Homo sapiens: one gene and its partners. The protein of the gene in region 4 purifies or fractionates together with the protein of the main gene of each other region. This does not show direct contact. Each region holds a gene or a part of one and is shown on either strand. Other genes may lie near its edges.

Region 1 (7,196 bases), on a different chromosome or scaffold from region 4:
TCGCTCTGTCACCTAGGCTGGAGTGCAGTGGTGCGATCTCGGCTCAGTGATTCAGTGATTCCTGGGTTCAAGTGATTCTCCTGCCTGAGCCTCCTGAGTAGCTGAGATTACAGGCGCCTGCCACCACACCTGGCTAATTTTTGTATTTTTAGTAGAGACAGGGTTTCACCACATTGGCCAGGCTGGTCTTAAACTCCTAACTTCAGGTGATCCACCCACCTCAGCCTCTCCCAAAGTGCTGGGATTACACCCGTGAGCCACTGCCCCGGCCTTTTTTTTTTTTTTTTTTTTTTGAGACAGGGTCTTGCTCTGTCACCCAGGCTGGAGTGCAATGGCGCGATCTCAGCTCACTATAATTTCTGCCTCCAAGGTTTAAGCAATCCTCCCGCCTCAGCCTCCCAGGTAGCTGGGATTATAGGCGTGCACCACCATACTCCGCTAGTTTTTGTATTTTTAGTAGAGATGGGGTTTCGCCATGTTGGCCAGGCTGGTCTGGAACTCCTGACCTCAACGATCCATCCACCTTGGCCTCCCAAAGTGCTGGGATTACAGGCGTGAGCCACTGCACCCAGCTACAAGACTCTTAACCTAGAGAGCCTGAATTTCTTCACTTGTAAAAGGAGGCTGCTGGCCCTAGCATGCAGCTTGTTGGGGAGGATTAAATGAGATGATTATGTAGGGCCCAATGCATGGCTGCTTGTCATGTGACCACTGACCGTTGCCCCCACCTCACTGCCCTTGAGTCCCACTGACCTCCCGAGGCAGCATAAGCAGGAGAGAAGAAGGCTAGTCCTTGGCACCACAAGGCCCCGAGGGCAGCCACAGCCTCGGCCTGGCCTCCTGCATCCAGAGTCACCACCACCTGCAGCTTTGGCCAGAGCCGAAGGGCCAGTCCCCGTGGCCCCTGCTCTAGGGCCTCCCGGAGCTCAGCTGCCCGTTCACGGAGAGGCGCTCCAGGGTTCCCGGCAGCTATCGCCCCAGCTAGCTCTTCACCATCAGTCTCCAGGCCCAAGAAAACATCCAGAAGTTCGACAGCCGTCCCAGCCTCCAGTGCCCTCAGCCCTGGGGACCTCAGTGCGTCCAGCAGCAGGGCCCTAGGGTCCTTGGTTCCAGGGGTGCCCACCTGGCCCAGGGTATTCCCAGGCCAAGGCAGGGGTCGGGGCCAAGGGGATGTAAGCGTCACACGGGCAGTGCGTCCCTGAGCCAGCACTTCTGGGTAGGCCTTGTTTAGGGCTGCCAGACCCAGCAAGGTGGCCTGGAGGAGGAAAGAGAGAATGTTGGTCTGGTGTCAGAGCCAGACCCAGAGCCCCCATTTGGGGGTTCTTTGCCCACCATGACTGGAGGGTTTGGCTGCAAGTCAGAGGTCTCTGGTGGGACTGGGCTGTGGCCAGGACTGGGCTCTGGCCATCCTAGATTACCTGCAGAGAGGCCTCCCCAAGGTCCTGGTTTGAGGTCGGGGGCAGTGGCTGCTCTCCACTGTCTTCCTGCTGGGTCTGGCTGGCCTTGGTCAGAGGGAGATGATTCCGGAAGGTGCTTATGTCTATAGCCCCAATGACAACAGAAACGCCTCAGGAAGCCAGTTTCCCAAGAGTTTCAGGCAAGACTGGTGAGACCCTTGAGGGAGGAACCGAGAATAGGCCTGGGGTAGAGAGGATGTAAGGACCCAGCATGGGAAATTCATCTTGGACAAGAAAGCCAGTCCTGGGTCTCTGGGTCAGGCCACTCCGTTGGCAGTGGAGGAGGTAAGGGGGCCATCAGGCTCTGGAATCTGACGGTCCTGTGGGGTTTCTTTCTCTTTGGGTCACCTCCCCAGACCCTGGGAAACACACCTGTGCTCCTTCTGAGGGAACAGTGGGGGCGCTGGGCTCCCTGTAGACACCACCTCAGGGCCTGCTGCTGGCTCTGGTGCACATGGAGCGTGCTCTGCTCCAGCCTCCGCCGCTGCCAGGTGGCTGCCCAGACCAGGGCCCCCCATGCCACTCGGTGCTGGAGGCCAGCAAGCCAGGACAGCCTGGCATCCTGGGACCGCTGCTGCCTGAGCAGGGCCAATGTTGGCAGCAGCAGCAGCAGCAGCAGCAGTGGCCACAGCAGCATCTCCAAGCAGCTCCTGGGAAGAGGAAGGAACCGAGATATGGGGGCATGCAGCAATTATCCATTTCTCCTCCCACGCTCTACTGCATACAGGAAAACCGAGGAAAAATGAAATTGGGAAGAAGGCAGGACCCTGTGGGGCAGGTGATGCAAAGGAGAGACTATCAAAGCTTTGGAGTCCCACTGACCTGAGTGCAGATCCTGCCTCTGCCGCTTGTTAGCTGTAGGGCCCTGAGCAATTTAGTGGGCTGCACTGAGCTCTGTTTCCTGATCTGCAAAATGGGAATAAGAATAAGAATGCCTCTTTCAGAAGGTAGGGGTGGGCCGGGTGAGGTGGCTATCATCTGTAATCCCAGCACTTTGGGAGGCTGAGGCAGGAGAATCACTTGAGCCCAGGAGTTTGCAACCGGCCTGAGCAACATAGGGAGACTCCATCTCTACAAAAAATTGAAAAACTAGCCCAGCGTGGTGTCACACCCATAGTCGCAGCTACTTGGGAGGCTGAGATGGGAGGATCCCTTGAGCCCAGGATGTCAAGGCTACAGTGAGCCAAGATCGTGCCACTGCACCCCAGCTTGGGCAACAGAGTGAGACCCTGTCAAAAAAAAAAAGAAAAGAAAAAAAAGGGAGAAAAGAAGGAAGAGGAAGGGAAGGTACAGGAAGGGTTTCGGACAGGGTCGGTCGGGCACACAGCAGCTGCGTAACGATATCTCTTGCCCACTCCCGAGTGGCTTTGCTTTCTCTCGGGATCCACCCTGTCCCAGCTCCTTGTCCCTCCTGAGCCCCAGGCTGTGGGGTCCATGCCCACATGCACCTGTCACAGCCCACTTCTGCCTACTCCTGGCACGTGACGGAGACCCCTGGGTGACTCTGGGTCTCAGCACACATCCGGCCAGAAAGAAGGAGCGATGGCTTTAAAAGGCTGGGCCCCAACTGGGAAATCCGGCCACCAGGCCTGAGGGAGGAGCTGAAGGAGGGGGGTGCTCTTAAAGGGGCAGGTCGCCTACAGGACTTCATGTCGGGTGCTAGCCCAGGCTGGCAGTTGGGGCAGTTAGGACCAGACTAGCATGGTCCTCAAACTTGCGCAGGTGAAGGAACAGAAAGGTGTGTGTGGGAAAGAACGCCATTAAGCCACTTGAGCTGGGAGAGGGGCAAGCTTAAGAACTCTTAAAACCCCAACTCAGCTGGGCGCGGTGGCTCACGCCTGTATTCCCAACACTTTGGGAGGCTGAGGCGGGTGGATCATCTGAGGTCAGGAGTTTGACACCAGCCTGACCAACATGGTGAAACCCCATCTCTACTAAAAATACAAAATTAGCCAGATGTGGTGGCACATGCCTGTAATCCCAGCTACTTGGGAGGCTGAGGCAGAAGAATCACTTGAACTTGGGAGGCGGAGGTTGCAGTGAGCTGAGATTGCGCCATTGTACTCCAGCCTGGGCAATGAGCGAAACTCCGTCTCAAAAACAAACAAAACAAAAACAACAACAAAAAAAACCCCATCCTCTCCCTCAAGGTAGTTGAGAAAGAAAACAATTTTATTATTGAATAAGCATTCAACCACAATGTGATGTACATGACAGGTGATCTGCTAAGAGCTTGCAAAGAAGGGAGGAAATCTTACTTTTTTGTATAGCCAAGCGCATACAACCCATTACATACACGTTTTCAAGATAAACAATAACGAGTCCTCAAGTAAGAGGACTTGTCACATATAGTTTATCTTTTTTTTTTTTTTTTTTTTTTGAGACACAGTCTTGCTCTGTTGCCCAGGCTGGAGTGCAGTGGCACAATCTCAGCTCACTGCAACCTCCACTTCCCAGGTTCAAGCGATTCTGCTGCCCCAGCCTCCCAAGCAGCTGGGATTACAGGTGTGTGCCACCACGCCCAGCTAATTTTTGTATTTTCAGTAGAGATGGGGTTTCACCATGTTGGCCAGGCTGGTCTCAAACTCTTGACCTCAAGTGATCTACCCTCCTTGGCCTCCCAAAGTGCTGGGATTACAGGTGTGAGCCACCACACCCAGCCAGTCACATAGTTTATCTTAACTTTACATGGTTATTAGGTGAACATCTGTGTTAGCTTGCTGGCTTTATCCCAAGGAAAATTACAAACTTCTTTTTTTTTGTTTTTTTGGCAGAGTTCTATTCTTGTTGCCCAGGCTGGAGTGCAATGGCACGATCTTAGCTCACTGCAACCTCCGCCTCCCAGATTCAAGCAATTCTCCTGCCTCAGCCTCCCGAGTAGCTGGGATTACAGGCACGCATCACCACACCCAGCTAATTTTTTGTATTTTTAGTAGAGACGGGGTTTCACCATGTCACCATGTTGGCCAGGCTGGTCTCAAACTCCTGACCTCAAGTGATCCACCTGCCTCGGCCTCCCAAAGTGCTGGGATTACAGGCCTGAGCCACTGCACCCAGCCAGTCACATATAGTTTATCTTAACTTTACCTGGTTACTGGGTGACCATCTGTGTTAGCCTGTTGCCTTTATCCCAAGGAAAATTACAAACTTCTCTTTTTTTGTTTTTTGTTTTTGAGACAGGGTCTTGATCTATTGCCCAGGCTGGAGTGCAGTGGTGCGATCATAGCTCACTGCAACCTCAACCTCCTGGGCTCAAGAGATCCTCCTGTCTCAGCCTCCCAAGGGACTGGAACTACAGGTACGCACCACTACGCTCAACTAATTTTATTTTTTGTAGAGACGAGAGAGCTCCCTATGTTGCCCAGGCTGGTGTGTTCTTGACCTAGGCTCTCAAAACACTAAAACCACTCCCTTTCTCCCCTTACTTGCCTCTGGATACCTTTGAGAAGAGAGCTACTACTTGCTGAGCACCTCTCTTCCCTTCACAGCTGAGCTTCTTTCAACAGGTCTGTTCTCACTCTGGCTAACTCACCTCACTTTCACGTTTTTTCTCGCTGAGATCTTGCATTTGCTTTTATTATTTATTTAAAGACAGGGTCTTGCTCTGTTGTCCAGGCTGGAGTTCAGTGGCCTGGTCACAGCTCATTGCAACCTTGAACTCCGGGGATCAAGCAATCCTCCTACCCCAGCCTCTGAGTGGCTAGGACTACAGGCATGTGCCACCACACCCAGCTAATTAAAAACATTTTTTTTTTTTTTTTGTAGAGACAGGGGGTCTTACTATGTTGCCCAGACTGGTCTGGAACTCCCGGTCTCAGCGATCCTCCTACCTTGGCCTTCCAAAGTGCTGGAATTACAGGTGTAAGCCACTAGACCTGGCCCAGTAACAGCTTTATTAGATATAATTCACACACCATACAAATCACCCATTTAGTGTACAATTCAAGATCTAGTATATCCAGAGATATGTGCAACCAACACCACAGATAATAACATTTTCCTTACCTCAAAAACAAACCCTGCAGAGTCTCTCTGAGCCTACTGTGCCTCAGGAGACTGCCCAATTCGTTAAATAAAATAAAATAAAATAAAATAAAATAAAATAAAATAAAATAAAATAAAAAACCCCAAACTCAGGCTGGGCGTGGTGGCTCACACCTATAATCCCAGCACTTTGGGAGGCCAAGGCAGGTGGATCACCTGAAGTCAGGAGTTCAAGACCAGCCTGGCCAACATGGCAAAACACTGTCTCTACTAAAAATACAAAAATTAGCAGGGTCTGGTGGCCGGCGCCTATAATCCCAGCTACTTGGGAGGCTGAGGTGGGAGAATCGCTTGAAACTGGGAGGCAGTGGTTGTAGTGAGCCGAGATGGCGCCACTGCACTCCAGTCTGGGTGACAGAGCGAGACTCTGTCTCAAGAAAAACAAACAAAAAAAAAAACAAAACAAAAAAACCCCCAAACCCTGTATCCTTTCACTATTACCTCCAAACTCCTTCCCAGCCTCTAGGCAACCTCAAATTTACTTTCTGTCTCCATAGATTTGCCTATCCTAGACATTTCCTATAAATGGCATCATATAATATGCGGTCTTTTGTACTTGGCTTCTTTTCTTTTTCCTCGCTCTGTCACCCAGGCTGGAGTGCAGTAGCATGATCACAGCTCAAGTGATCCTCCCACCTCAGCCTCCTGAGTAGGTGGGACTACAGGGGTGCACCACCACATCCAGCTAATTTTTGTATTTTTTTGTAGAGATGGGGTTTCACCGTGTTGTCCAAGCTGGTCTTGAACTGCTGCACTCAAGTGATCCCTCGCCTCAGCCTCCCAAAGTGCTGGAGTCCCAGTCATGAGCCACCGTGCCCGGCCTGGCTTCTTTCATCTAGCATGATATTGTCAAGGTTCATCCGTGACAACATCATGTCCTGTGTGTCAGCACTTCATTCCTTTTTATTGCCGTATATTCCATTGTACAGATATACCATAATACATTTTGTTTATTCATCAGTTGATGGACATTTGGGTTGTTTCTGCCCTTTGGCTATTATGCATAATGCTGTTATGAACATTTGTCACAAGTGTTTCTGTACATATATGTTCTCATGGTTCTTATGTAGATACCTACAAGTGGAATGGCTGGGTTTTTTGTTTTTTTTTAATTTGAGACAGAGTCTTGCTCTGTTGTCCAGGCTGGAATGCAATGGCATGATCTCGGCTCACTGCAATCTCTGCCTGCCGGGTTCAAGCGATTCTCCTGCCTCAGCCTCCCAAGTAGCTGGGATTACAGGCGCGTGCCACCACGCCCAGCTAATTTTTGTGTATTTTTAGTAGAGACGGGGTTTCATCATGTTGGCCAGACTGGTCTCGAACTCCCGACCTCAGGTGATCCACCTGCCTTGGCGTCCCAAAATGCTGGGATTACAGGCATGAGCCACCGTGCCCGGCCCTATTTGTTCCTTAAGAGCCAGCTCCAGGCTGGGCATGGTGGTTCACGCCTGTAATCCCAGCATTTTGGGAGGCCAAGGCAGGTGGATCACCTGAGGTCAGGAGGTCCAGACCAGCCTGGCCAACATGGTGAAACCCCGTCCCTACTAAAAATGCAAAAATTAGCCGGGAGTGGTGGCGCCTGTAATCCCAGCTACTCAATTAAAATAAAAAAATAAAATAAAAAAAAAGCTTGAGTTGCTCAGTGGCCTTCCTGCATGTTCTTTTGCATAATGACTTTGGGATGCCTTGATTGCA
Region 2 (7,378 bases), on a different chromosome or scaffold from region 4:
TTCCGTTCTATTTCTAAATGCCAAAAAAAGATAAGACTCACATTTATTTTTATTTTTTCTTTTTCTTTTTTTTGCTCCTGCCTAAAAAGTAAGGACTCACATTTTTGATGATGCATTTGTTTTTACAAGAATATTGAGCTTCCAAGTAAAACCTTTGTGAAATCAGAGCATAAGCTATTAAGGTCACTAAAATAAATATAAAATACCTTTTAATTATAAACACTACGATTAAAACGTATGTGGAGAGAACCCCAAAAAAATTTTAAGACATGTAAAAAAGGCAAAAAGAAATCAATCATGTGTTTCTAACGGTTAATCACTATCTTGTAAAAAGAATCCCAAAAATTATCAATAGAAATTCACAATATTTGAAGAACACTCAAAGGTATTTTCGCTCTGTAGATCTCCAGATACCACTGTCTACTGATTGAGGGACTCCAACTTGATCCAGCAATCAAGCTACGTAGACGAACAGAAACAGAATTAAAGCAATTAAGTGAGTCAATTCAACTCACCACACTTCGGTTTTTGTGTGTACCTAATAAAAATGTTGCAACAGAAGAAGTAATGTGGCGTTAAACCAATCAGAGTTTGGGAAGAGTAGTAATTAGCATAAGAAACTGAAAATTAATTAAGTGGCTTTTAGGGCCAGGCGCGGTGGCTCACGCCTGTAATCCTAGCACTTTGGGAGGCTGAGGTGAGTGGATCATTTGAGGACAGGAGTTCAAGACCAGCCAGGCCAACATGATGAAACCCCGCCTCTACTAAAAATACAAAAATTAGCCGGGCCTGGTGACAGGCGCTTGTAGTCCCAGCTACTCGGGAGGCTGAGACAGGAGAATCGCTTGAACCCGGGAGGTGGAGGTTGCAGTGAGCCAAGATCGTGCCTGGGAGATCTGCACTCCAACCTGGGCAACACAGCGAGACTGTCTCAAAATAATAATAATAATAATAATAATAAGTGGCTTTTTTTTTCTTTTTGAGAAATGATCTTGCTCTGTTGCCAGGGATGGAGCGCAGTGGTATGATCTACTCACCGCAGCCTTGAACTCCTAGGCTCAAGCAATCCTCCCACCTCAGCCTCCCCAGTAGCTGGGACTACATGTCGGTGCCACTACATCCAGCTCATTTTCTTATTTCTGTAGAGATGGGGCCTCACTATGTTTTGCCCAGGCTGGTCTGCAACTCCTCGCCCCATGTGAATCTCCAGCCTCCGTCTCCCAAACTGCTAGGATTACAGGCGTGAGACACCGCGCCAGGCCCAAGTGGCATCATAAACCATCTCTAGGAAATCTAAAGGATTAATAATGATATTCACTTCTCTATCAGATTCACTGCAAAGATTTTTCTATATAAGCATAATGCAGCAACACTAACTTATATACACAATAATCTTCTCCATAGCAATGATTTGTCAGACATTAGGAAATCCTTTACATATTTAATATAATAATCCAATCCTTTATATCTTCAATAATCCAATCACAAAGTTCAAAAATATTAAGAGAAGTTATCATGCAACTCCTCACCCCAATTTTATTGCAAATTTTACTTTACTTTGACCTGATGTTCCATGCCCACAAGCTAGATAACAATGCGTCAAATATCTCGTTATCATTGCAAAGCAAAAAAATAAAACTTGCTTTAATATAAAACGGTAACTAGTATACAACCTGTAGTAGTTAAAACAATATAAAATTTTACTTAACCAGATATTGCACGTTAAACTCTAGGAACATTAACAGTGGAAACATTCTCCGCATCTAACAAATTACGAGATAAAGTATAGATCCGTTGAGAGGGAACTAACATTCTGACCTCCTTCCAAAACGACAAACTAGAACGGCAAAATTACACTCAGGCACATTGGAGTACTCTTCTCTCAAATCACTCCACAGAGAACTTCATCATTTGCTCCGCCCTCTAATAACTCATGCAAGAAAAGTTCAGCACCATCAGAGAGAAACAAGACAGAGAGAATTCATAGAATGGCTTTAGGGCCTTTCCTCCAGGCGGTAAGAGGATCTGCGTGTGTCCTTCGCAGGGGTCCAAAGGGAGAGAACCTAGGCCTAGGGTTTCGGGGATACCGACACCCAGAAACAGATTTTCTCTCAAAGAAGTTTCTGCCGCCATCCCTATCTTATCAGCAGGAGGCCCCGGCGCCATCGTCTCCGTCTTTATGATTTTATTATGGGGAGGTGGGAAACGCCACCCTGGATTCTTCCAGGCCTCCCCTATTCAGCTTGGGGGTTCCCCCTCATTCTTCCCTCAAAGCCTCAGTCCCTGAGGTCCTCCTCAGCACCCCCCGCTTCTGGCGGCCTGTCCCCCGTGAAGTGTAAAGGCACGGCCGAACCCACCGGCCTTGCCGTGAAGGCGGGAGGGCCCGAACCCGCCAGGGCCACGGCGATGGCTCCGAGGGGCCCAGAAAGGGGAAGGGCAGGCCGGGGACCGGGGCAGAATGACCTGGCCGGGGAAGAAAGGAAAAAAGGAGGTGAGGAGATGCACCGCACCGCAGGGCTGCACAGAGAAGGGAAGATGATGAAGGAGGAGGAGGAGGGCGGTGGCCCGGGTGCGGCCCCCTACTCCTCCCGCCCCCGGGTCCCCGGGCCGGCGGGGGCGGACGGACTCGGCCCATTCCCAGGTCTGGGCTGGCGGGGGGTTGGGGGATCTCCCTCCACGCTACTAGGAGACAGAGAACGAGGGTATCGGGAGCGGGGGGGGGCTGTCTCCCGCCTGAACCCGGAGACCCCGACGCCGTCGTCGCCTCTTCCTCAGGAGGGAGGACGGCAGCTGTGGGTAAAGCCCGAAGGAGGAATGCCTGAAGGTAAGGGGAAGCCCGGGGCAGACCCGCTGCCCGCTCCGGACCCCACTCTCCACCTTCCGGTAACCGCGTCTCTTACCGGTAATGGTGGTGAACTGTTGAATTAACCCCTTCAGCGCCGAGGACGCCGCGGAGCCCCCGTGGGCAGCCATCTTACCGCCGCCGCCGCCGCCGAACAACAACACAGACACACACGGACTGCCCTCCCCCACTTCGCCGTGCGGTGTGCGCAGGCGCATTGACCGCCCCTCGAGCCCCGCCCCTCCCGTCCCCAGCGGTCTGCGCAGGCGCATTTTCCGACCGGGCCCGCGCGCTCCCAGCTCTCGGGTTGGCTGCTCGGTTGCTGCCTGCTCAGTGCATCCTTTTTGCCATTGCTGGTGCCTTCCTCTCCGGGCTCCAAGGCTAGCCTCGCAGGCGCGGTGTCGATTCCTAGATTCCGAAGGAAGCTTCGGTCTCGGCAGATAGTTCTTCGCATTTCAGCTTCGCAAGCTTTATTGACAGAGCCAACTGCCGATGACAGCATTTTTCTGTTTTGCGGTTGTACCGCACTCTATTAGGTTTCCTGCAGGTCCCATCAAAATGCAAACCCTACCTCCTCGCTTTGAAGCGACTCTCCCCGTACTCGCCCCCCAGCCTCTAAACTAATGGCTTAGCTAACCGATTGCGACGAGTGAAATACCAGAACCCTTCATGCCAAAGAAAGCACTTAGCGCGGGGTTGCCACCCAGTAGGTTTTCATAAACGATTGTTTAGTCTGCTTTCCTTAAATAAATTGGCCATCACGTCTCCCGTTAGGGTCTTAATGAGACCCCAAGAGGCGTCATTTGTATAAAAAGAAACTCTGTATATGCAGTAGAGGAAAGAAAACATATAGAAAGGAGACTGGAAAAGTGTGCTCAAAACGCTGGTAACGGTTACCTCCAGAGAAGAGAACGATCGGGACGATGGTCAAAGCGGACCTTACTTCGAGTTTCTTATTTATCTTTTTATTTTTAAACAAACATTATTGGCCGGGCGCGGTGGCTCATGACTGTAATCCCAGCACTTTGGAAGGCCGAGGTGGGAGAATCGCTTGAGGCAAGGAGTTCGAGACCAGACTGGGAAATATATCAAGAATCCATCTCAAAAAAAAAAAAAAAAAAAAGATATTCGTGTGTTCCTTGAATAATTTTAAGTATTTTGCAAAACAGTTACATGAGTGGGGTGCGCTCAAATCCAATAATCCCCCACCTTGCCCATAAAGTTAAAAGAGATTCCAAGTGATTCCGTTTGTTTTAGCCTCCCACCTTCCAACCTCCACCCACATATTTTGCATCTTCATAGGAAAATGGCCCAATAAAAGATGGGATGAGCTGTCTGAAGAATTGACACATCCTAAGAGTAAACATGCTATTGGGGAGAATTAAGAAAGAGCCATGTCAAATCAAGGGGTATAGTTTTTTGTTTTGTTTTGTTTGACAGGGAGTCTCGCTCTGTCGCCCAGGCTGGAGTGCAGTGGTGCAATCTCAGTTTACTGAAAGCTCCGCCTCCCGGGTTCAAGCGATTCTCCTGCCTCAGCCTCCCAAGTAGCTGGGATTACAGGCACACGCCACCACGCCTGGCTAATTTTTGTATTTTTAATAGAGACGAGGTTTCACCATGTTGAGCAGGCTAGTCTCAAACTACTGACCTCAAGTGATCCACCCGCCTCGGCCTCCCAAAGTGTTGGGATTACAGGCGTGAGCCACCACACCCAGTCGGGCTGTAGTTTCAAGAAGATATGATTGATGTAAAAGAAAGCAGACTCCAGTAATCCCAGCACTTTGGGAGGCCGAGGCGGGCGGATCGCCCGAGGTCAGGAGTTCCAGACCAGCCTGGTCAACATGGCGAAACCCCATCTCTACTAAAAATACAAAAATTAGCTGCTGTGGTGGCGCGGGCACCTGTAATCCCAGCTACTTGGGAGGCTGAGGCAGGAGAATCACTTGAACCCGGGAGGCAGAGGTTGCAGTGAGCCGAGATCATGCCACTGTGCTCCAGCCTGGGTGACAGAGCAAGACTCCGTCTCAAAAAAAAAAATGTATTTTAAGTTAAATGACAGATTGGTCCTGGCACTGCCTTCCAGGTTGCTGCAGTTCTCTAGATGGGCTGAGGAAGGGCAGGGATCAGTCATAAATTTCGGCAGCTGATTCCTTCACATTTGATGCAGAGGTGCAAAAACAGGCAAGGGAAGAAAGCCAAATCAAGAAAGTGTTACCTCTGTCTCCCTTCATCCTAAAGGCTGAGTCACTAGCCAGCCATGCAAAATCAAGCTCCACGTAAAATGGTATAACACCATTAACTACAAAAACTAAACACAGTGATTACTGTACCTCCATCAGATGGAGAGGCCAGTAATGAGCTCTGCAGGTTTATCAGGTTTATTTCCAAAATCTTATAATTCAGATTTAATGATATGATTTTGATTAACAGTGCAGGAAAAGGTGATAAAGTCTGTGGCATCCACAACTCCAGAAGGCATTTTTTTAGAAATTAAAAAATAAGATAAAAGAAAATTAGACAGGTGGCCAAAAAGATTCCATGGTCGGGGGGAGGGGGGGAAAGAAGGGAAGAAAATGAGACAGTTTCCATGGATAACCAGGGAACTGGGAAAAATAAATAAAGAAGTAATGAATAATACAACCTTGAAAAGCTTTTTTGGATTATTAAAGAATATGAAGGACTGACCAGTTGCGGTGGCTCACACCTGTAATCCCAGCACTTTGGGAGGCCGAGGCTGGGGATCACCTGAGGTCAGGAGCTCCAAACCCGCCTGACCAACATGGTGAAACACCATCTTTACTAAAAATACAAAATTAGCTGGGCGTGATGGTGCGTGCCTGTAATCCCAGCTACTCGTGTGGCTGAAGCAGGAGAATCGCTTGAGCCCGGGAGGTGAAGTTTGCAGTGAGCCAAGAATGAGCTACTGCACTCCAGCCTGGGCAACAGAGTGAGACTCCGTCTCAAAAAAAAAAAAAAAAAAAAAAAAAAAGAATATGAATATGAAGGATGGGTGTCGTGGCTCATGCCTGTAATCCCAGCACTTTGGGAGGCCAAGACAGGAGGATCACTTGAGCCCAGGAGCTTGAGACCAGCCTAGGCAACATAGGGAGACCCTATCTCTGAAAAAAGAAAAAAAAAGTTTAATTAGCCAGGTGCGGTGGTGCAAGCTTGTAGTCCCACCTACTCTGGAGGCTGAGGCGGGAGGATCACTTGGGCCCAGGTGGTCGAGGCTGCAGTGAGCCATGATGACACCACTGCACTCCAGCCTGGGTAAGATATGTGGAAATCACAAGGAACAGTGGAGGATCTCATACTAGTAACAGTAGAACTGTCACAACCCATACGTCCAAAGAGATGAGAACAGAGAGAAGTTAGAGAAATCCCAAGTGAGATTTTTTTGCAGAGCAAACCACCATGCAAGAAGCAATGACCTTCTGTCAAGGGACATAAATAAGCAGCTTGAGGCAATCTCAGAGAGGAGCTCAGGGACATAGATACCCTGACCTCGATCTCCTCTTCTGTCTCCTGCCAGGAATCCCCAATGGCTGAACCCAAATGGAAGACAGAGGGCACAGCAAGAAGCCCCTTGTAGTTCCCACAGGCAGCCCCGGGGCAGAGAGCAGGATGGAAAAGAGGAAATTGATGGACACAAATGTAAAATGGAATGGTCATGGAAATACATTCCAAAACTTGAGGAGCTTTTTGGTTTGTTTGGGTCTTTTTTGTTTCATCTTGTTTTGTTTTTTGAGACAGGGTCTCTCTCTGTCGCCCAGGCTGGAGTGCAGTGGCAGGATCTTGGCTCACTGCAGCCTCTGCCTCCTGGGTTCAAGCGATTCTCCTGCCTCAGCCTCCCAAGTAGCTGGGATTACAGGAGCAGGCCACCATGCCCAGCTAATTTTTGTATTTTTAGTAGAGACAAGGTTTCACCATGTTGGTCAGGCTGGTCTTGAACTCCTGACATCAAGTGATCCACCTGTCTCAGCCTCCCAAAGTGCTGGGATTACAGGGTGAGCCACAGAGCCTGGCCCGAAACTGATGGAGTTTTAACAGAAGCTAAAGGAGAATATATAAGCTTAACTGGTTATATTAGAGAAGAAGACTGGAAAATAAGTAGCTCAGCATTTCATCAAGAAGTTAATAAAGGAACAACAACTCAGCAGACAAGGAAAAATGTGAAGAAAAAATGCTAAAGAGCAGAAATTGACAAAATAGAATACAAAATACAGAAGAGAGGATTCATAAAACCAAAAGCTGGTTCTCTGAAATAACAATATGTAAAACCTTTGACAGGCCAGGTGTGGTGGCTCACACCTGTAGGCCCAGCACTTTGGGAGGCCGAGGTGGGTGGATCACCTGAGGTCAGGAGTTCCAGACCAGCCTGGCCAACATGGTGAAACCCCGTCTCTACTAAAAATACAAAAATTAGCTGGACGTGGTGGCGGGCGCCTGTAATCCCAGCTACTTGGGAGGCTGAGACAGTAGAATCACTTGAACCCAGGAGACAGAGGTTGCAGTGAGCCGAGATTGTGCCATTGC
Region 3 (7,711 bases), on a different chromosome or scaffold from region 4:
CTACGGGCACATACCACCATGCCTGGCTAATTTTTTTTTTTGTAGTTTTAGTAGAGACGGGTTTCACCATTCTGGCCAGGCTGGTCTTGAACTCCTCTCCTCGTGATCCACATGCCTTGGCCTCCCAAAGTGCTGGGATTAAAGGCATAAACCACCATGCCCAACCCATTCTGTTAAGAGTAGGAAAATCAGTGTAGATTTATCTGCACTTAGGGAAATGTTTGTCTTCCCTTACCTGAATTTGCATTGTCCCAGCACTGAAAAATGTTTGTCCTTGGAGAGTGTGTGTGCGCTTGGTTCAGTAAGTTACCAGAAAACTATAAGAAGAATGAAGATGAACATTTTCTTTGCATACTGTTGTAGAGACTTGAGGGACCTAGACTTGAGGTGCCAAATGGGACCGTTTTCCTGAACCACCTCCTACGGAAAAAATCAGATTTATTATGTTTTGCATAATTGTGTCTTATGAATTGCTCTGCTGGTGAAAGGTAGAGTTGGGGTTTGGAGTGTTGTGGGGTGGGCTGTGGATGCCAGAGGGAGACCAATCCCTGTGGGTAGGCATTACAGTTTTCCTGCAAGGGAATGGGACTTTTTTTTTTTTTAATGGGGAGGGATTAAAGAAAGCCCATTCACTGAGGAGCAGCAGAGAGGTAAACTTCAGACAGGACAACTGCTCTGTGTCTATGAAGGGAACCTGAAACCGCCTTTGCAAAATTATGACTGAGACAATGAAAGAGATTTAACTTAACCAACTCCATCTTGCTTATTTTTTTATTTTTATTTTTATTGAGACAGAGTCTCACTGTGTTGCCCAGGCTGGAGTGCAGTGGTGCTATCTCGGCTCACTGCAACCTCTGCCTCCCAGGTTCAAGTGATTCTCCTGCCTCAGCCTCCTCAGTAGCTGGTATTACAGGCGCCCACCACCACGCCCAGCTAATTTTTGTATTTTTAGAAGAGATGGGGTTTCCCCATGTTGGCCAGGCTGGTTTCAAACTCCTGACCTCAAATGATCCACCCACCTCGGCCTCCCAAAATGTTGAGATTACAGGTGTGAGCCACCATGCCCAGCCAGACTCCATCTTGCTTCTAACCTCCAAGCTGTCTTTGTTCATTCCTGGGTGTAGGCTGAACGAACTTTGGGAGAAACTAACTTAGTTTGTAGTTTATAGTTTAAACAAAGACAGTAACAGCCCTTTCTCAAAACAGGCCTCCTTCTTGCCTGGGAACTATACTAACATTAGCCACAGGATTAAAAATTATGACTTAGGAGTCATGCAGCTGGAGGCTGTAAGATTCTGACCCTCCCTAAACTGCTCTTAAGATCAGTGTTTGAGATATTTTGCAGACCCTGCACTTGATGGATCAGCTGGCACCACCGACTAATAAACTGGCTTATCTGATGTTGTGGCCTCCACTCAGGAACTGACTGAAGGCAGGAAGACAGCTTCAACTCCCTGTGATTTCACCCCTGACCAATCACCACACCTGGCTCACTGGCTACCCCCCAACTCCCACCCACCAAGTTATCCTTAAAAACTCTGCTCTCCAAATGCTCAGGGAGACTGATTTGAGTAATAAAACTCCAGTCTCCCACACAGCTGGCTCTGCGTGAATTACTTTATTGCAACTCCCCTGCCTTGATGAATTGGCTCTGTCTAGGCAGCAGGCAAGGTGAACCCCTTGGGTGGTTACATTAGGACTTAAAATAATAAATTATTAAGAACCCTAGAGAGTCATTTTTTTAAATGGATTATATCTATCAAAACTTACAGTATTACAAATTAAAATAAATGAAAATGTTTATTGAAAATAATTATTTACATAAATAATGTCATTTCATGAATATAGCTATATTTTCTTTTTTTTTTTTTTCGAGACGGTGTCTTGCTCTGTCACTCAGGCTGGAGTGCAGTGGCACAATCTCGGCTCACTGCAACCTCCACCTTGCGAGTTCAAGCGATTCTCCTGCCTCAGCCTCCTGAGTAGCTGGGATTACAGGCACGCGCCACCATGCCTGGCTAATTTTTGTATTTTTAGTAGAGATGGTGTTTCACCATGTTGGTCAGGCTGGTCTCAAACTCCTGAACTTGTGATCTACCCACCAGGGCCTCCCAAAGTGGTGGGATTACAGGAGTAAGCCACCGCACCCGGCCTATAGCTATATTTTCAAAAATAAAATATTAGTGAGAAGAATGGCATAGTTTTAGATTTTTGTAAATCTCTTTTACACCTGGCTTAATAGAAGACTGTTGGGTTCTTTTTTCTTTTTTAATTTTTTATTTCCATAGGGTTTTAAGAAATGTGGTATTTGGTTACATGAGTAAGTTCTTTAGTGGTGATTTGTGAGATTTTGGTGCAACCATCGCCGAGTAGTATACACTGAACCCAATTTGTAATCTTTTATCCCTCACCCCCTTCCACCCTTTCCCTGAGTCCCCATAGTCCATTGTGTCATTCTTATGCCTTTGCATCCTCATAGCTTAGCTCTCACTTAGGAGTGAGAACATATGATGTTTTGTTTTCCATTCCTGAGTTACTTCACTTAGAATAATAGTCTTCAATCCCATCCAGGTTGCTGAAAATGCCATTCATTCATTCCTTTTTGTGACCACGTAGCATTCCATTCCATATATAAATATATAAATATATATTTATATATATCACAGTTTCTTTCTTTTTTTTTTTTTTTTTTTTGAGACAGAGTTTTGCTCTTGTTGCCCAGGCTGGAGTACAGTGACGCAATCTCGGCTCACTGCAACCTTTGCCTCCCAGGTTCAAGTGATTCTCCTGCCTCAGCCTCCCGAGTAGCTGGGATTAAAGGCGTCTGCCACCACGTCCGGCTAATATTTTGTATTTTTAGTAGAGACGAGGTTTCATCATGTTGGTGAGGCTGGTCTCGAACTCTTGACCTCAGGTGATCCTCCCGCCTCGGCCTCCCAAAGTGCAGGGATTACAGGCGTGAGCCACCGCGACTGGACGGAAGAAACGGTGAAACTTTTAAGGTGGTAGAATTATAGGATCTGATGACTGATTAGATGAAGCATGGAGAGGGCAACAGTGTGCACAGTGATGCCTTTTCTTCACAGGCATTATAGGAGGGACAGGTTGGTAGGAGGAGGCAACGGGTTTAGTTTTGGATTTACTGACCGGGGATGAGTGTTAGCTCTCTAGGTAGAGGTGTTCCGCAGGCAACTGGTGTTGCGGGACAAATCATAGACGGGAGAGACCGAGCAGAGTTCAGGAGAGCCTTTATTATTAAGGTGATCACCGGCTCAGTCGGACTAGGGTCCAGAAAGTCTGAGCCCCGAACAAAGGGATCAATCACCTTTTAAGCAGTTTGTGTTGGGAGTTACGTGTTGCATGAAGTGTACTTGCAGAAGCAAGAACAAAGGCAGTAAATTACTCTTACATTTGTTACACCATATGTCTTACGTCCTTGGGAATACATGCTTTTGTAACACTTGCTAATCAGTTTTGTGACTTTACAGCAGCGCTAGGGAGGGAAGCAAGAACTCGCTGTGCCTCAAGGAATGTGAAACGATGGAACACAGATAAGCCTCTCCACGCATAGGGGAGAAATAAGCAGTTAATATACTCTTAACCCAGGCCTTGGGTAGGGGAGGTGCTATATTACATTCTACCTCAAAGGAAAAGAATATACTTCTTGATTAGTATACTTATAAAATTCATTAATTTCCCTTTCACTGGATATTCCTACTAATTCCCCCAGGGCCTTGCAGTTTTGTCTCATTCGCTGCTCTATCCCCTAGCTTAGCACAAAACCTAGTTCTTAACATTGATTAAATAAATGAATCCGGTCAGGTGCTCCCGTGGGTGATCTGGAAGGAGTTAAATTTGGTAGTCATGGGAGACGCTTCTGTGAAGCCATAGGAGCGAAGATTGATTGTGGCGGCAGGACTGAACTCAGCTTCTGAATCTTTCTAGCCGCTAAACCTACAGACTAAGTGGCGTCCTTGGGGAATGCTGCCTCAAACGGCTCGCGACGTCCTAAAACATGTACATTTATTTTGGAAAATCTGTTTTCGTAAAACCTAGCATACTTAATCACCAACATTTGTTAACTTCATGGTGGCATATTAATACCTGTCAGGTTGATTTTAGTTGGAGTGGGACGGGGCTGACCTCACCGTCCTACCCTTCGGTATGAGGCCGGCGTCTTCACGACCTCGCTTTTCACAACCCCAGTCCCCGAGGGCTTATTTGGGGCTGTCGGAGTCCCCAAGACGTGGCCCCGGAGAAGGGTGAGGTGCCACAGTTCGAGGTGCCCCAGTACCCTGCGTCCGGACAGGGGGCGGTGCTCACGCCCAAGGCCCCGCTGACGCGATGTAGGCCGAGATCACCTCAGGCGCTCGCGGTGCAATCACAGAGCGCGCCGTCGCCGCTCGAGCTCGCCCTGAGATCCCTCCGCTCAGCGCCTTCAACGCCGTGTCCCGGCACCCCGCACCCGGGCACACAAAAAACGGGTCGCCCGCGATTCTCAGGGATTGATCGCCTCTTCAGGTAAGTTATCTTCCGGCCCCGTACCACTGTGCCACAGGCGCAGCCCGCTTCCTCAGGTGCCCTATCCCGCGCAAGAAGACCACGGCTTCACAGAGTGTTATTTAAGGGGCGTGGCCAGCGGAACATCCCGCCCCATTCTGTGACGCACGGGGTGGCGCGCGTGGGACCCGAGGGGTGGGGCTGGGTTTAGTAGGAGACCTGGGGCAAGGCCCCCTGTGGACGACCATCTGCCAGCTTCTCTCGTTCCGTCGATTGGGAGGAGCGGTGGCGACCTCGGCCTTCAGTGTTTCCGACGGAGTGAATGGCGGCGGCGGCTGGGATGCTGCTGCTGGGCTTGCTGCAGGCGGGTGGGTCGGTGCTGGGCCAGGCGATGGAGAAGGTGACAGGCGGCAACCTCTTGTCCATGCTGCTGATCGCCTGCGCCTTCACCCTCAGCCTGGTCTACCTGATCCGTCTGGCCGCCGGCCACCTGGTCCAGCTGCCCGCAGGGGTGGTACGTACATTCTTTAGGGTCTGAGTGGGGCGCGCGCCGCAGCTGAGGCGGCCGAAGGGCTGGCGTGGGCGGCTCCGTGGCCCCGACCGGCTCAGTGGATGGCAAGGGCGGGGGCGACTGCGGCCATGCTTGGCGTGGCTTTGGTGGCAGGCGCGCTGGGGGCTGGAGTAGTGGCTGCGGCGGCGGCACTGCTGCTGGTGGCGCTGGCTGTAGCACCCGCCATTGCCTTGTGTTGGGGGGCGGTGCTGGCCTCCCCGGCTGTGTATCTGATCCTAGACGGGGTCGTGGTTGCGGCATTTGTGGTTGTAGCGGTCTGTACTGACCGCAGCAGTGGTGCCCCTAGTGGCGGTGGCTGGATTGGCGGCTGTGGGTTTGAACGACCCGGTGGTCGTTGGGGCCCTTGGTGGGGGTCCTGACGGAGATGCTGTTGGCAGCTGGCCCGTCATCCTGGAGGCTGCCCTGTGTGGTTCAGTGTTCTGTGGGCTGTAGCAGTGCCCCTAATGGTGGTTTATACCCATATTAAGGAGGATGTGTAGAGTGTGGTAATGGTAGTGACTGGAGTGTGGTAAGGGCCTTCCTCTGATGCTAATAATGTAACAGTTTCTCGGCCGGGAGCAGTGGCTCACGCCTGTAATCCCAGCACTTCGGGAGGCCGAAGCGGGCGGATCACCTGAGGTCAGGAGTTCCAGACCAGCCTGAACAACATGGAGAAACCCCATCTCTACTAAAATACAACAAAACAAAACAAAAATTAGCTGGATGTGGTGGCACACGCCTGTAGTCCCAGCTGCTTGGGAAGCTGAGGCCCGAGAATCACTTGAACCTAGGAGGCGGAGGTTGCAGTAAACCGAGATTGCGCCACTGGACTCCAGTCTGGGCGACAGAATGAGACTCCGTCTCAAAAAAAAAAAAAATCATTTTCTTCAATTTAACAGCCTTATTAACCTAGCTTTCAATCTCCCAAATGTTATTTGATTGTGCCTTTTACAGTCAGCAATAAGTAGCTTTTGAAAACTACCCTTTTACTGACAATGCAATGTACAAACTTTTGACCAAGTAGCTTTTAAAATAATTTTTGTTTGAACCATACCAGGCATAAGAAAGAGTTATTTATTTATTTATTTTTTTCCTACACATGGGATCTTTAAGGAAATGATATTTGTCTCTGGGAAGACAAAGTTACTTTTAGTGTTTAAAGATAGTTCTATTAGCTGAGGTGTACTGTGAGGTTGTGGTGCTCCTTTCTATTTGAGACCACCAGAGAATTGAGGAGTATTACCCTTTTTCATTATTTTGTTTGATTTTCAGGATACTTAATGTTGTAATCTGCAGGTCTCATTTTGTGGCATCTAAAGAAACTTTTATGAAGAATGCTAGAGTTCTTGCTAGAGCTGATCTACTCTCTTAAAAACTCTAAAATCAGTGGCTCTAGTTCACTTGCAGTGAGAGAAGCATGAGATTGATTGTTTACTGAGAAGTAAATATAGCTTCTTAAACATTTCCCTTCTTTCTATACTACAAGTTACTGCTTGTCTTTTTCTATACCTTCTTTAAGCAAGTATCTGGGACTAAAATTGTGAGTAGTAGTAGTAGTAAGTAGTGAAGAAACAATATAGTGGGCCCTCTGGGGACACGAATTCCACATTTGGGAATTCAGCCAAGTGTAGATCTAAAATACCCAGGGGAAAAAAACCCAATACAAAATAACACAACAATAAAAAATAATACAAATAAAAAAACACAGTTTAATAACAGTTTATATAGCCTTTACATTGTATTGGGTATTGTAAGTAATATAGAAATGGTTTAAGGTATATGAGAGGATGTGCATAGGTTATACGCAAATACTTTGCCATTTTATATAAGGGACTTGAGGATCCCTGGATACAAATCTGTGAGGGGGTCCTGGGACCAGTTCTCCACAAATGCCAAGGGACAAGTGTAGTTTGACCTTTTTGGTTTTTTGCTACTAATGGTTAGAAAAGTTGCCTGGAGACACCAATAATAATTGGACATATTCTGGACAGTGTCCATCATTTAAATTTACAGTGCCTTAGTGTTTATCTGGTCGTTTATCTTATACCGTGTTTTGAGTTTCTGTTCTTTTCTACAATAGCTACTCTCTTGAGGTATTTGCAATTTGGCTGTTCTCAAGTTACTTCTGATGCTTCCTTTTTTTTTGGTAACTTTTTTTTGAAGTCTTAATAGCTATTTTGTTTAATTGTTTGGTCATGAAACGAAACTGGGTTTCTCTCTTGAAATGAAACACGAATTGAATTTACTATTTTTTTCTCTTGTAGAAAAGTCCTCCATACATTTTCTCCCCAATTCCATTCCTTGGGCATGCCATAGCATTTGGGAAAAGTCCAATTGAATTTCTAGAAAATGCATATGAGAAGGTAAGTCTTCCAAATAATTAGAGGAAAAAAAAAAAAACAACTAGAGAAGTGCTTTTTAAACTTTTTTAAAAAAGTGGCAGAACATTTAAAAACATTGTAATCATATACATATCCTCAGTATAGGAAACAAAATGGAAACTGCTCTGGTTTAAGAGATGGTGTCTTATAGATACCTATCCTTTTAGCTTTTCCCATGTCCTGGGGTCGTCTTTGAGACACCATTGAGGAAACCTGTAGTTCTGGCAACTATGGTTTAAAAGCCACTGTTCTGAGTTTTCTATTCACTTATTGTCATTAA
Region 4 (7,902 bases):
GGGAGAAATTCTAACAGAGGCCAAGACAAAGGTGGCACGTGTGAGTGTGTGTGTGTGTGTGTGTGTGTGTGTGGTGGTTGTTTATATGTGATGTGTTGTATGCACGTGTTGTGCATGGCAACTGTATGTTGCACATGTGTGCATGTTTGTATGTGTGTTGCATGTGTTTTCACAAGACCCGAACCTTTGCCGGCTCAAGCCTACAACACCTCCCTTCGCTGCCCCACTGCTGACAACCTCCAGTCCCTGGGCCCAGCCGCCTTGGAGAATAGGCAGGGCTCTCTCCTCCCCTGCCCCAACCCTCTCCTCTTTAATTGTGGACTGTCTCAGAGCAGCAGCACAGCCTTGCCACCGAAGAGCCCCAAAGGCAGGAGGAAGCCAGGGACACAACAGTTCTGGCTTCCAATTCCTATGGGAACCAGTTCCCGCTGGCTGGGTGGGTGTGCTTAGATCAGGGCTGGGGTGGCCCTGGTGGGCCAAGCCAGTCAGGGCATCTGCGGTCACAGGCTGTCTGCTTCTCCTCACTTTGACGGGAACTGGCCTCTTAAGATGTGGACTTTGGCCTCCCTTTCTTTCCCACATCCACAAAGTGGCCAGGGCCCAACATTCCCGAACATGCTCGTTCTCTGGAGACCCTCACTTCTGGGGGCAGTACTCTAGTCCTGGGCCATCCCCCACTGCCAGCCTGCAGCCCTCATCCTGCTGAGGGTGCTGAGTGCCGGTGGGCGGATGCAGGTGGCCATGGGTTCTGACTTCCCAGTTTTGTGAACCTGGGCAAGCAGTGTTTCGTCACAGAGGCAATGTTTAATACTGCTTTTAATACTAGTTACTCAACTCGCCCTGTGCGTCTGAGAGTTCAACAGGAATGTGTCTTCTTCCAGAATCTCACCCCAGTGTTCTTCTGCCACCCAGCTCAACTGCCCCTGGCAAGGAAGGGTCTCTCCTGAGGCTGAGGACTCTCAGGGAAAGGGATGTCCTGTCTTCCCTGGGGAGGCCCCAGGGGCTAATCAGTGGCAATCCCTTCGGGGCTGCAATCAAGCGGATGGCCTCCTTTCGTCTTGGTTAGCAGAGCGAGTTAGGTTGCAGCTACCAACCCTTCCCACGCCCTCCAGCTTGGCTCTCACCTCCAATGCAGAGCTGAGGGAGGAGATTTCAGCTTCTCCAGGGCCTCTGCCTTACTCCCAGGGTTTTGGGAGGCCCCTGAACTGTTCTCAACCCTGATGTGGTACTATGGTCCCCCAACTTTGACTAACCTTATCCATCAGGGAGAAGAGAGTAAAACCTGAAGCTGGAGGCCTCACTTCCTGGTCTCTCACAGCTACAGAATGTTGTCTGTGACCACCCAGCCCACGCATCATCTTCTAGGCCAGCTGTTCTCAGTCTTCAGGGTCCTCAACATCACCTGGAGAGCCTGTTGACACACAGCCTGCAGGACCCATCCCTAGAGTTCCTGAGTCGGCAGGTGCGGAGTGGGGCTTGACATCTCCAGTTCTAACAGGCTCCCAGGTGATGCTGATTCTGGTCCCGGGACTACACTTTGAGAACTGCTGCTTCAGGTTGCATCCTGCCCCCAGCACTTATGCTAATTTGTGTGGTGAAGACCCGGGGCTCCAGAGCCAGAGGCCTGGGAGTGAATGCTGTCTCTACCAGTAGCTGTGCAGCCTTGGTCAACATATTCTACCTCAGTTCCCATCTACAAAGTGGAGATAGGGATTGTAATAGGTAATTATGAGAAAACACCTGTAACACGCTCAGTGTCAGGTGATGAGTGGATCATGATTGGATTAAGCTGGTCATGACCACCCTGCTTCCCACTGTTTTAGGCACATTGTGAATGCTCAGTAAATGCCAGTTATCAAGGTGATTTGGCACTTGGTCTGTTCCTTTGCAGGGGATGTTGTCACTCGCTCCAGTGCCTATTTCAGATGCATTCACCTCCCTCCACAACACCTGGTTTTGTCTTGTTTCTGGGAAAGAGGAAACCAGAAAGGACCCAGGCAGGGGGTGACCCACTCTGTTACCAAGAGAGAGCCCCATTTGGGTGCAGTGCTGGCAAGCTCAGTCACCTTGGCCATTGCCCACCAAACCCAACTCCAGGTGCAAACAGGCCAGGAAAGGACAGCTTGGTGGTGGCTGCTCCTGGCATTTATCTGTGTCTCCCACCCGCAGCCGTCTGCCCAGGGATATGAGCTGGGAGAGGGCAGAAGGAGCTGCAGCCCTGGAGTTGGGGAAGGGGAAGTATGAAAGTGTGGGAGGAGGAAATTTGGATAGCGTTGATAACGCTGACATATAGTTCCCATTCATCCAGCAAGTGACAGCTTAGAGAGTGCTTTTAATCTGCTGTCAAATGTCTGCAGTACCGATATGGTTATTCTTGTTGCCTTATAGATGAGGCTGTTTGGGTCCAGAGAGGTTAAGTGACCTGTTCAAGGTCACACATCAATCCAGTTGTAGACCTGGGGCCAGAATCCAGGATTAGATCTCACCAGGCTCTCTGTTCCCACCACACTCTTCTTCCAAATGGGGCATCAGCTCCTGGGTGAGGACTGTGGATCTGCCACAGGAACCCCATTCCACCAACCTTCCCAAGCCTCTCCATCCCAATCCCACATCGCTCCCCTTCACCTGCACAAACTGCTCCATGGCCCACTGGTCCAGGCAGGTGTAGTTCTCCAGGAAGCGCAGCTTCTCCAACTGAAACTGGTCCCTGGACTGAGCCTCCGCCTGCCTCTCTAGCAGCTGGAAGATAGTGGCACCGAGCAGCAGGTAGCAGACATAGGCCAGCAGCAGGGGCAGCACCCGGCCACCCCAGCAGCTGCAGAGCCCAGCACTGGGCATGCTGTGGCCAGGACCCTGCCAGGGCCGTGGGGCTGGCTATGGGGGAGAGGTGGGAAACAGGTGAGGAGTAAGCACCTAGGGGCCTGTGCCCAGGCTGCCGCCTGCCCTGCCCTCCTCCTCGGCACAGGTGTCTGGAGGCTGGGGAGACTGTTTGAACAGTGCGGCTCAGCTTGGCTGCACTAAGTGCTATGCTGTGAGTGCAAACAGGCCGGCCACCCCCACCCGGCCTTTGTTTCCATGGACAGCAGCAAGTCAGTGTCAGGGACCCTTCAAAGAGACCTACCAGGTTCTCCTGAGTGCTTCATGTCTCTCTCTCTGTCTCCAAGTTGGATAGATGTTTCTGGGCTAAATCGGATAGGTGTGCTCACTCTGTCCAGGCCCCAGTGGGCTCTCTCGGCCGCCCCCAGCGTCTTCACCCTTGAAGGCTGTAAGACCCCAGCTTAGGAGCTGGGAAGAGGTCAGAATGGGTATGAATAAACCTTCTACTCAGTTGCCTTGGCTACAAAATGGGGCAGGATAATTGAACTGCCTATTGGGGGAACCTCAGGATGAGTAAACTGCGTGACAAATCAGGGCAAAGTAAATAGACAGGTGATTGTCTCACTCAGCCTGATGGTAAGAGTATCAGGGTTGATTCTGCTGATAAGTTGGATTCATTGGTTTTATAACTCTTGCTAATTTGTCTTGCATGAAGCCCTCTAGTGGGTTACCTTCAGAGGATATGTCGGTGAAATATATGTGTGAATTAAAAAGAAACTATAAGTATATCCTGATCCTGGGATGGTAAGAGGGGCTGTCTCTGAGTGGATGGAATTGAGAGTGCTTTCCTTTCTCTTTGCCTGTGTGTGTGTGTGTACACATGCTTGTTTATGTACATGTATAACAGCTTTATACAGATATAATTCACATGCTGTATCGTCCACACATTTAAAGTGTGCAATTCAGTGGGTTTTAGTATATTCACAGGGTCTTCAAGATCCAGCCCTGTTGCAACATGTAACAGTACTTCTTCCTTCTTTCTGGCTGAGTAATATTTCATTGTGTGGCTATAACACATTTGTTTATCCATTTGATTTCTAGTTGATGGACATTTGGGTTGTCCCTGTTTCCTTCTATTAAGAACAAAGCAGCTATGAACCTCTGTGTATGAGTTTTTTTTGTGGACATGTGTTTGCATTACTCACAGGTACATACCTAGGAGTAGAATTTCTGGACTATCTGGCCACTCTGTATTGAACTTTTTGAGGAACTGCCAGGCTATTTTCCAAAGTGGCTGAACCATTTTATATTCTCACTAGCCCAGGGCGAGGATTCCAATATCTCTGCTGTGTTTTCTGCTGTTTCCTTTAATGAGCTGTGGCTGCAGACACTGTGAGTTGCCTGCTGAGTATCCTTTCCCTCCTCCCCAGCTAGCAGAACCCCGGCTTTGTAAGTGTTAACCCCAGGTAATTGAGCATAATTGGTCTAAGTCATAGTGCTAATCTTGCTCCCCTCTGTCTCAGCCCCTGAGAGCAGTGAAGTCACTGAAGACCCATAAGACAGTGGGCAAGAGGGCCAGGCTGAGGAGAAAGCCAAACAAGGCACCACAGTCCCAGCCTCAGCCTGGTTCCTGGGAGCTCTGGCAGGTGAAGTGCACCCCAGTGAGTCCCAGCAGGGGACCTGGGCCTTCATATCCCCACATTAGTCCGTCACTCATGCATTTCTGGCTTTGCGCACGTGCAGGAAAGATGGCTCCAGGAGCTTGTGGAGAGACCCCTGAAGGAGAGCTCCAGGTGCAGGCTAGGCCACTGGGAGAAAAACACATTAAAGCCTGGGGAGGAGACCCCAGGGTCGAAGCGTCCCCTGCACCCACTTTCCCAAGCTCCCTTGCAGCTGGGGCTGGCCACGTGCCCAGGTCCAGCCATGATTGGGCAGAGTTGGCTGAGGAGGTTTGGGCAAAATTGTTGTCTGTTGACCAAGGGTTCAGCTGCAGCTGGCCCCGCATTTCTGCCTCTTTCTGTCTGGACCTGCTGAGCCATCTTGTGTCCCTGAGGGAAAGGTCATGGGCACTGCAAAGACACTGGACCAATTCCTGCACACTCCTCTCTAGATTTCTTTTTATATTGAAAACATAAACCTTGTTTCAGCCACCATTAGGTATTATGTTACTTCCCAATTGTTATTATGAGTTTTTGTTGTTGTTCTTTGTTTGTTTCTTTGTTTTTTTGAGATGGAGTCTCACTCTGTAGCCCAGGCTGGAGTGCAGTGGCATGATCTCAGCTCACTGCAACCTCCACCTCCTGGGTTCAAGCAATTCTCCTGCCTCAGCCTCCTGAGTAGCTGGGACTACAGTTGCGCACCACCATGCGTGGCTAATTTTTTGTATTTTAGTAGAGACAGGGTTTCACCATGTTGCCCAGAGTGGTCTTGAACTCCTGAGCTCAGGCAATCCACTCGCCTCGGCCTCCCAAAGTGCTGGGATTATAGGGGTAAGCCACTGAGCCCGGCCTGAGTTCTTTTTAAAAAACTGTTCAAGGCTTATTTGAGTTGGAAGGGATCAGAACACACTCCAGGTATTTCTGGTAATTAGACTGTGTGCTGTAGGAACTGGGGAGCAGCCAGGGTTCTGGAGCCTCCTAGCTTTCCACCAGCAGCGTGGCCTGACCACTCTCTACTCGCCCCAGGTGCCTCCCATCCGCCGTTTCTCTGCCTTGGGGCTCCACTCCTGGCTGACCTCCTGGCATCTGGTCAGATCCATGCCCATTGCCCTCTGCTGCTTTATCTTGGTATCTCTTGGCTTAAATCCTTTATGGATGGGCTAAATGCCCAAGAGTGCCTTTTCATGGTGGCTACTCTACAGGTGTCTGGTGGGCTGAGGATGGCCCAGCCTTGGATGAAGCGGCCTTCTCAGCTGACCTGCCCCAGCCCAGGGGATGGGGACATCACACATGTAGGCACCACCTGGAAGGCACTTGTCATGGCAGATACGGTGGCCTTTCTGTCCAGGACAAGCAACAATTGTTTTTGTAATAAGGAGGAGAGAACAAAAGAGAGAGTGCGAGAGAGAGAGGGAGAGCGAGAGAGAGAGAGAGACCTTGTAGAAGATAAAAGCAAGAGGGAGACATTATTTTTCAGGTATGTGGGTGATCAAGAGATTGGTAGTAACATAGGGTTCTGCTAAAAACCAAACAACAACAAATCACAGTGAGCGGAGGTGGAGCCCACATTGTGTGGGCTGTTCATTAAGAATGTCCCGACGCAGTGACAAACCTGCAGGCTTTTGTCCACCCTGTGGCTTAGGCACGGCCCTGTCTGGGGGTGGTGTGATGGAGCCCACCTTCTCTGGAATTCTGCTGCTTCTGGAATCCTCTGAGGCCATCTGGGGATCTCTGAAGTGGTTCTGTGCAAGCCCCACTTCACATGGTCCGGGAGCTTTCCCAGACGGCACCTTGTTGGGATGTGGGCTTGTCTTGGAGGGAGAAGGAAGCATCTGGAATCAGTGGGGCAACAGAGTGCTGGCACTCATTTCTGCTACAGATGCACCAGCTCCTGGCTTAAGCAAGAGTTAGAATTAAATCTGAAAGGCAGCGTGAGAGTCAAACCCTATTCGATTGCCCTGGAGAAACTCAATACATGGAGAGCTCTCTCGTGTATCACTTAGAAAGCTCATCCGTGGATGTCTGCAGGGCTTCAGGCAGGACTGAGTAACTCTGTAGCACTGAGTATCTTTGAGCAGTCTGGACACAGTCCACAGGTAATGACGGTTGTTCTAAGGGGGACGGAAACGAAGGAAAAGAGAATGGACTATCTGCATGGGAGAAGGGGATGAACGTAGTGGGCCACAGGGACGTCTGAGATGGGCTGGGGTAGAGGGAGGGATGAATCAGCCATCAAGGTGCCCTCCCTCCCTCAGGTCCTGGGCAGGAAGTGTACCAGGCTCACTGTGGGCAGACACTCCATTCATTTATGAATGATCTGTTGGGAACCTACTGTGCGCTGGGGCTATCTGTTGAGACTCTACCATGTTCTGGGAAAGTCAGCCAGCACAGCTTCCTCCTGCCTTTCCTGGCTCTTTCTCTCCACTGCTGCCTCTCTACTCTCTTCTGGTCACACCCTCACATCTCCCTCTTACATCAGTTTTTCACAAACCACCCAAGCCCAATAAGACTTCACCTGGCTGGGGTTTAGGATAGAGTCTTTCTCAGAAGCATGTTCAGTTTAATGGGGGACTTCTGAAAACCCTAGGGCCACAAAAGCCACAGAAAGGGCAACATAATGGTGGACTTTGGGGGAGATCTCAGCTCAAGAGGCCCACAGACTGTGCTGTAGGAACTGGGGAGCAGCCAGGTTTCTGGAGCCTCCTAGCTTTCCACCAGTAGCCTGGCCTGACCACTCTCTACTCGCCCCAGGTGCTTCCCGTCTGCCGTTTCTCTGCCTTGGGGCTCCACTCCTGGCTGACCTCCTGGCATCTGGTCAGATCCATGCCCGTTGCCCTCTGCTTCTTTATCTTGGTATCTCTTGGCTTAAATCCTTTATGGATGGACTAAGTGCCCAAGAGTGCCTTTTCATGGTGGCTACTCTACAGGTGTCTGGTGGGCTGAGGATGGCCCAGCCTTGGATCAAACAGCCCCCTCAGCTGACCTGCCCCAGCCCAGGGGATGGGGGCATCACACATATAGGTACCACCTGGAAGGCACTCGCCGTGGCAGATACGGTGGCCTTTCTGTCCAGGACAAGCAACAATTGTTTTTGTAATAAGGAGGAGAGAACAAAAGAGAGACTGCGAGAGAGAGAGGGAGAGCGAGAGAGAGAAAGAGAGAGAGAGAGAGAGAGCTTGTAGAAGATAAAAGCTCTCTGCACCAGAGAGGATGTTCCCATCCTGCCTCCCTCGCTTCCTGCCTTAACTCATTCTACACACACTGACTGAGCGCCCTCCATGTTCTGGGACCTGATTCAGCTACTCTTCCTAGTCCACTGTGGTCTTGTGAGGTCAGCGCTTGGTCAAGATTAGGAGAAAAACTGCAGGGCTGCAGAGACCTCTCTGTCCAACATCTCCCTACGTGGGCACTACTCTGCTGTGAGCTC

What was found.
Region 1: the proteins of KCNK16 (region 4) and GHDC purify together in Homo sapiens (affinity purification with mass spectrometry; 3 studies listed by BioGRID and IntAct, with this or other methods). This does not show direct contact.
Region 2: the proteins of KCNK16 (region 4) and UBXN7 purify together in Homo sapiens (affinity purification with mass spectrometry; 3 studies listed by BioGRID and IntAct, with this or other methods). This does not show direct contact.
Region 3: the proteins of KCNK16 (region 4) and CYP51A1 purify together in Homo sapiens (affinity purification with mass spectrometry; 3 studies listed by BioGRID and IntAct, with this or other methods). This does not show direct contact.

The regions. Positions count from the first base shown.
Region 1 is NC_000017.11:42,191,488-42,198,683, forward strand, and holds the start of GHDC (GH3 domain-containing protein isoform 1 precursor), read right to left. Parts: upstream 3,008-7,196; 5' UTR 2,906-3,007; intron 2,364-2,905; 5' UTR 2,280-2,363; intron 2,108-2,279; 5' UTR 2,095-2,107; coding exon 1,830-2,094; intron 1,541-1,829; coding exon 1,419-1,540; intron 1,256-1,418; coding exon 754-1,255; intron 1-753.
Region 2 is NC_000003.12:196,429,427-196,436,804, forward strand, and holds the start of UBXN7 (UBX domain-containing protein 7), read right to left. Parts: upstream 3,002-7,378; 5' UTR 2,974-3,001; coding exon 2,901-2,973; exon of another isoform or gene 2,776-2,900; intron 2,016-2,775; exon of another isoform or gene 1,959-2,015; intron 1-1,958. UniProt on the Homo sapiens protein: Ubiquitin-binding adapter that links a subset of NEDD8-associated cullin ring ligases (CRLs) to the segregase VCP/p97, to regulate turnover of their ubiquitination substrates.
Region 3 is NC_000007.14:92,131,476-92,139,186, reverse strand, and holds the start of CYP51A1 (lanosterol 14-alpha demethylase), read left to right. Parts: upstream 1-4,709; 5' UTR 4,710-4,822; coding exon 4,823-5,014; intron 5,015-7,314; coding exon 7,315-7,413; intron 7,414-7,711. UniProt on the Homo sapiens protein: Sterol 14alpha-demethylase that plays a critical role in the cholesterol biosynthesis pathway, being cholesterol the major sterol component in mammalian membranes as well as a precursor for bile acid and steroid hormone synthesis.
Region 4 is NC_000006.12:39,319,703-39,327,604, forward strand, and holds the start of KCNK16 (potassium channel subfamily K member 16), read right to left. Parts: upstream 3,001-7,902; 5' UTR 2,839-3,000; coding exon 2,626-2,838; intron 1-2,625. UniProt on the Homo sapiens protein: K(+) channel that conducts voltage-dependent outward rectifying currents upon membrane depolarization. Voltage sensing is coupled to K(+) electrochemical gradient in an 'ion flux gating' mode where outward but not inward ion flow opens the gate.